2 linked regions of the Homo sapiens genome follow. The main gene of each other region encodes a partner of the protein of the gene in region 2 in a complex. Each region holds a gene or a part of one and is shown on either strand. Other genes may lie near its edges.

Region 1 (2,908 bases), on a different chromosome or scaffold from region 2:
GTCTCTACTAAAAATACAAAAATTAGCCAGGTGTGGTGGCGGGCGCCTGTAGTCCCAGCTATTCGGGAGGTTGAGGCAGGAGAATTGCTTGAACCCAGGAGGCGGAGGTTGCAGTGAGCCGAGACCGCACCACTGCACTCCAGCCTGGGCAACAGAGTGAGACTCCGTCTCAAAAAAAAAAAAAAAAAAGGAATTGCTTTCTGTAACAGTTTTACTGAAAATTTAGATGCAATTTTCATATAATATTTTCTCCTAAATAGTCATTAAATGTTGAAGGTATGGCCCAAAGTACAGCCCAGTGAAAGTGATTTGGGAAAGGACCAAGCTACTGAACTTTTTACTGAATGATTAGCATTATTGGATTTGAGGATAGAACAATAAATTCCTAGATCAATGCTCCTAAAATGCAGTATTGCGATATACTACTGGGTCATGATCTATTAATACCTTCCCCAGAGGTAATTATTATTCTGATTATCACCATGGTTAGGCTTACCTCGGAAGAAATGGAATAATACAATATGAACTTGCTTGTCTGGCTTCTTTCCCTTAATGTGTCTGTGAGATTCAACCCATTTGTCAGTGTACCAATTACTTATTGTATTGCTGTGTAATTTTCTGTATAGTATTATATGAATATAACACTATTCATTTTTCCATTCTCTTGGACATTTGGGTTCTTTCTGGTTATTGGCTATTATAAGCAAATCTTTTATGAACATTTCTGTGTATGTCTTTTGGTGGCTATACAAACTAATTTCTCTTGGGAATATACCTAGGATTGGAATTACTAGAGTATAGGTAGATGTATTTATCTGTAAGTAGATGCTGCCAAACAGTTTTCCAAAGTGGTCTGTTTTAAGATGTCCTTCAATTTGGGGATGATCAGAAGCTTTCCACACAGCACCCTTTACAAACAAAGATGCCTTTATGTCTTGTAATGGTTACTGGGGAAGAATGTTAAATAGTCATGTGTCTTTTGCTATTTTTCTCCTTTCTAGCATCAATTCCTGAAGATTGCCAAGCCCCTCTCCAGCCTCACTCCACTGATTGCTGCAGCTAAGGAGGCAACAAAGAACAATCACTAAAACCACACTCACCCCAGCCTCATTGTGCCAAGCCTTCTGTGAGATAAATGCACATTTCAGAAATTCCAACTCCTGATGCCCTCTTCTCCTTGCCTTGCTTCTCCCATTTCCTGATCTAGCACTCCTCAAGACTTTGATCCTTGGAAACCGTGTGTCCAGCATTGAAGAGAACTGCAACTGAATGACTAATCAGATGATGGCCATTTCTAAATAAGGAATTTCCTCCCAATTCATGGATATGAGGGTGGTTTATGATTAAGGGTTTATATAAATAAATGTTTCTAGTCTTCCGTGTGTCAAAATCCTCACCTCCTTCATAACCATCTCCCACAATTAATTCTTGACTATATAAATTTATGGTTTGATAATATTATCAATTTGTAATCAATTGAGATTTCTTTAGTGCTTGCTTTTCTGTGACTCAACTGCCCAGACACCTCATTGTACTTGAAAACTGGAACAGCTTGGGAATGCCATGGGGTTTGATAATCTGCCAGGGACATGAAGAGGCTCAGCTTCCTGGACCATGACTTTGGCTCAGCTGATCCTGACATGGGAGAACAACCACATTTTTCTTTGTGTGTGCTTCTAGCAGCTGTTCGGGAGGACCTTGACCCAATAGTGTTCCCATGCTGTTTCTTGTGAAATGCTCTCGGCTATGTAGCAGCTTTTGATTCCCTGCATACCCTAGGCTGCTGCCCCTATCCTGTCCCTTGTTTATAACATTGAGAGGTTTTCTAGGGCACATACTGAGTGAGAGCAGTGTTGAGAAGTCGGGGAAAATGGTGACTACTTTTAGAGCAAGGCTGGGCATCAGCACCTGTCCAGCTCTACTTGTGTGATGTTTCAGGAACTCAGCCCCTTTTTCTGCCTAGGATAAGGAGCTGAAAGATTAACTTGGATCTTCTAATGGTCCAAATCTTTTGGTCACAATAAAGAGTCTCCAAATTAGAGACTGCATGTTAGTTCTGGATGGATTTGGTGGCCTGACATGATACCCTGCCAGCTGTGAGGGGACCCCGTTTTTAAGATGCATGGCCAAGCTCTCTGCAAATGGAAATGCTTACACTGGGTGTTGGGGATGTTTGCTACCTCCTGCTATTTTTGTGGTTTTGGTTCTCCCACTATGGTAGGACCCCTGGCCAGCATTGTGGCTTGTCATGTCAGCCCCATTGACTACCTTCTCATGCTCTGAGGTACTACTGCCTCTGCAGCACAAATTTCTATTTCTGTCAATAAAAGGAGATGAAAATATTCTATTGGAGTATGCCTTTCTTTTTTCTCTTCGTTTTTTCTTTCCTTTTCTAATTTTTTATATGAAATAATGAGTAGTTTCTTCCTGAACCATTTGAGAGTGGTAAGTTGCAGATAGAATGCCCCTTTACCACTATATACCTGAATGTGTATTCTTTCTTTTTAACACTTTTATTTTAAATATAAATTAAGAGAAATGGGCCAAAACCATTTGTATTGTTTAAAGAATAATTATAAACACACTTGTATCCACCAAATCAAGAAATGGAACACTGACAGTAAGAACCTTCTCTATCTTGTCCTTCCTTTCTCATTATAGCCCCCACCTAAGAGGTAACCACCATCTTGACTTTTATTTAAATAACTTTCTTGCTTTTCTGTATACTTTCATCACATTCAGGTGTGTTCCAATACAAGTAGATTTTAGTTCGGCCAGTTTTTGAACTTTAAATAAACATATCATAATAGATATATTCTTTTGTGCCTGTTATTGTTTCCACTCAAGATTATGTTTTTAAAATATATGTACCTAGTTTGTGTGTAGCTCTAGTTCATGTATTATTCCG
Region 2 (3,830 bases):
CACTCTAGCTTTGCTGACTACATCCAATCGTTATTAGAGATTGTAAAAATGCCTGAAAGAACCCTGGACTAAAAAGCAGAAGAATAGTCATAATCCTAACTCTCCAACAGGGTAATAGTTATGCATCTCTGAGTCTCAGTTGACTTAACTGCCTGCTTACACCACATAGGTAACTGTATCGTTAACATTAAAGCACCACAGCTCTTGGCTCAGTGCTGGTAACCAGTAGACACTCAATTAAATAAACAGATAGAAAAACCTTACTTAGAAACATATTCAGACAAAATAAAGTAGAAAAAGTAATAAATATCTTAAAAAAAAAAACCCATCACCACTATTCTGGGCAAAAATAATATTTTCTGGCCGGGCGTGGTGGCTCATGCCTATAATCCCAGCATTTTGGGAGGCCGAGGCAGGCAGATCACAAGGTCAGGAGATCAAGACCATCCTGGCTAACACGGTGAAACCCCTTCTCTACCAAAAATACAAAAAAATTAGCCAGGCGTGGTGGCGGGTGCCTGTAGTCCCAGCTACTTGGGAGGCCGAGCCAGGAGAAGGGCATGAATCCGGGAGGCAGAGCTTGCATGAGCCTAGATCACACCACTGCACTCCAGCCTGGGCAACAGAGCAAGACTCCGTCTCAAAAAAAAGAAAATAATAATAGTAATAATAATACTTTCTTTGTGGAAAGAATTATCTGTATCTGTTCCCATCCTGTGTGTCCCAAACTAAGTTCTGTTGCTTAGGGACATGGGCAGCTGATAGTCCACAGCTGCAAAAAAACAAAGGCATAAACCTTATTTTAATAAACCGACAACAGAAATGTAGTGCTATTAAATGAAATAGTAAACTAAATTATATACAAAAGAATGTTTCCAGTTTCAGAGCCCAGTTTATTTATTTATTTTTTTGAGACACAGTCTCATTCTGTTGCCCAGGCTGGAGTACAGTGGCGCGATCTCAGCTCACTGCAACCTCCACCTCCCAGGTTCAAGTGATTACAGGCGCCTGCCACCAAGCCCGGCTAATTTTTTTCTGTATTTTTAGTAGATACGGGGTTTCACCATGTTGGCCTGGCTGGTCTCGAACTCCTGACCTCAAGTGATCTGCCCTCCTCGGCCTCCCAAAGTGCTGGGATTACAGGCATGAGCCACCACCTCTGGCCTCAGAGCCCAGTTTAAAAGGTTTGATCTTTCCAACAGACTCATTTATAATCATTAAGTAGAGACCATATTTTGTTTTGTAATTTGAAACTTCCTAAATAATGGATTGATAGAAACTAAAGTCACTCAATTTTAAATGTAATAACTATAATAAAACAGATATACTCACAGCTTGCATTTCTATACAGAAGAAATGGTTCATGGAGCTGAAATTCCAAATCTTTATTCACTGGTTCAACTAGATTGTGCATATTTAGTCGATTCACAATGGTAAAACCATGGTAAGGGGAAGCTGACCTTAGATTTAATAGAAGAAAAAAAAATATGTAGTTACCATTTAATCTGTAGAAATGTTATCTACTATGTACTTTATTTTCATTTCAAAAAAGAATGCATTAGAACATTATACAATATTATCAGCACTTACATCTGTAAACAAAAAATTTAAGTCAGATCATACTCCTCCTCTGACGAGAAGTCTCCAAAGACAGTCTCTCAGAGTAAAGGCCAAAGTCCTTACTGAGGCCACCAAGGCCCCACCTGATATACTCCCCACTCTGACTTCATTTCCTATGGCTCTTCTCCAGCTCCTACTCTCCAGCCACACCGGGCTCCTTGCCACTCTCTCTGCGTGTGTGCTTCTACCTAAAAACCTCTTCCTGGATTACTGCCCCAGAAGCTGCACAGCTATCTCATCTCCTCCAAGCCTTTGTTCAGATGTCACCTTTTTCATGAGGCCTACTTGAACTATCCTTTTTAATGCTCCCAAGCTCAATATCTCTAACCTTCCTCTTTTATCCATACCACTTATTTTTAGTATTTATTGTCCTCCCCCCACTAGGATGTAAGCCCCATGCAAATGGAGCTTTTGTCTTACTTTTTTCATACATATATCCCAAGATAGACACACAGTTGCTGAATGAAATATCATTCAATTGGATTGGCTATAATGGCTGCCCATCATTACAATAATGTTTTTCTTGCAACAAATAGATATTTACATAGCGCTCCTGAGTTAGACGGAAAATGCCTTGAATCCTACAATAGGAAACATCCTTGGTTCCCATATCAGAGGGATTCGGTACATGATCCTTTACTCTTCACATGTACCTAACACTTCACCGTTTTTCATTTGTTTCTCTACGATATACCCGGGGTGTTAACAGAACACTATTCTATAGATTAGGAGACAAGCTTTGAATGATAAGGCCTGTGCCTGAGGTCACACAAATAATGAGTTACAAATAATATAACTAGGATTCAGTTTCAGGTTTTTTGACTCCAAATCCAAGCTTCTACTATATGAAGTAATAGCTGCAAAGTGACAGTCTGACATCCTGGTATACCTTTATCCAAGGTACGCAAAATAGTCTCACATTTTCCAAACACAGTTTCTTGCGTCTCCTTTAATTAGAATCAGTACCATATAAGCCTCCGTGAATTGTATTAAATCCAGCCACCCACTACACTAAATCTCCTACTTTCTACAATCAGTGCCTCTGTATGATAACAATAAAGCCAGTAAAGTACTTTTACCAAATATCATAGAAACTAAGGTTCTAATAACAGAGTTTCTAGAGATTTATATTGCTAATGAAGAGTAATGAAGGGAGTGAGGGTAAAGATCCTTTCCTATTAATTTATTTATTTTTTATGAGAGGGAGTCTCGCTCTGTCACCCAGGCTGGAGTGCAGTGGCACGACCTCGGCTCACTGCAAGCTCCGCCTCCTGGGTTCACGATATTCTCCTGCCTCAGCCTCTCAAGTAGCTGGGACTACAGGTGCCTGCCACCATGCCCAGCTAATTTTTTGTATTTTTAGTAGAGACAGGGTTTCACCGTGTTAGCCAGGATGGTCTTGATCTCCTGACCTCGTGATCCGCCCACCTCGGCCTCCCAAAGTGCTGGGATTACAGGCGTGAGCCACTGCACCCGGCCGATCCCTTCCTTTTTAAAAGCAGAAAGATGAATAGCAGGGAACAAAGAAAGTGTCTAAGAAAAAAGAGCTTGGTGTACAAATATCAAAGAATTACACTTAAAAGAAGAAAAAAATGAGTGCATTTAGACGAGATCTCAAAGCTTTGTATCAAAATTTAGAAGAGTATTTGACAAATTCTTTTAAATTGGCATCAATGGAGAAAGGCAATCCTTATGAAGCAACTCAATACAAAAAAAAAAGGGAAAAGACCAGATATCAGTAATAACTCCTGCTGACTCCCTAAGCTTTAGAAAACAAGGGAAGGAACCTGCCCTTGTAAGAGTTAAGACCTTAGAGGAATCCAGGAAAACAAGTACCCCATGACTATCATATACTGTCAGTTGTCTTTAGGCCCCAAAAGCTGCCTAACAAAAAAGTTGCAATTTGCAAACCAATCTTAAAGATAATGAATTTTTGAATAAGTCAAAAATAAAAAATACGCCATCATGAATAATCCAAGCTTTCTAAAGAACTCTCAAATAAGACACTGTACATAATCCAGAACTTCTGTGGGTTGGGAAAGAGGACAGAACCAGTCATAAAAGACAACCACTCATGTAGTAATGAAAGAACAGAGGGATCGACCTCTCAATAACATTATTTTACAGAGCCAGTCTATGTATTGTCTTTTCCCCAAATATATATCTTTCTTTTTCTTTCTAATATGGGGGTAGGAAGAGAGACGCAGGCA

The links.
Region 1: DCP1A (region 2) and PAK1 share a complex: the UniProt entries of both Homo sapiens proteins name them as parts of the cytoplasmic complex.

What each region holds. Positions count from the first base shown.
Region 1 is NC_000011.10:77,321,454-77,324,361, reverse strand, and holds the end of PAK1 (serine/threonine-protein kinase PAK 1), read left to right. Parts: intron 1-1,001; coding exon 1,002-1,088; 3' UTR 1,089-1,207; coding exon of another isoform or gene 1,208-1,225; 3' UTR 1,226-2,345; downstream 2,346-2,908. UniProt on the Homo sapiens protein: Protein kinase involved in intracellular signaling pathways downstream of integrins and receptor-type kinases that plays an important role in cytoskeleton dynamics, in cell adhesion, migration, proliferation, apoptosis, mitosis, and in vesicle-mediated transport processes.
Region 2 is NC_000003.12:53,340,812-53,344,641, forward strand, and holds part of DCP1A (mRNA-decapping enzyme 1A), read right to left. Parts: intron 1,461-3,830; coding exon 1,333-1,460; intron 1-1,332. UniProt on the Homo sapiens protein: Necessary for the degradation of mRNAs, both in normal mRNA turnover and in nonsense-mediated mRNA decay. Removes the 7-methyl guanine cap structure from mRNA molecules, yielding a 5'-phosphorylated mRNA fragment and 7m-GDP.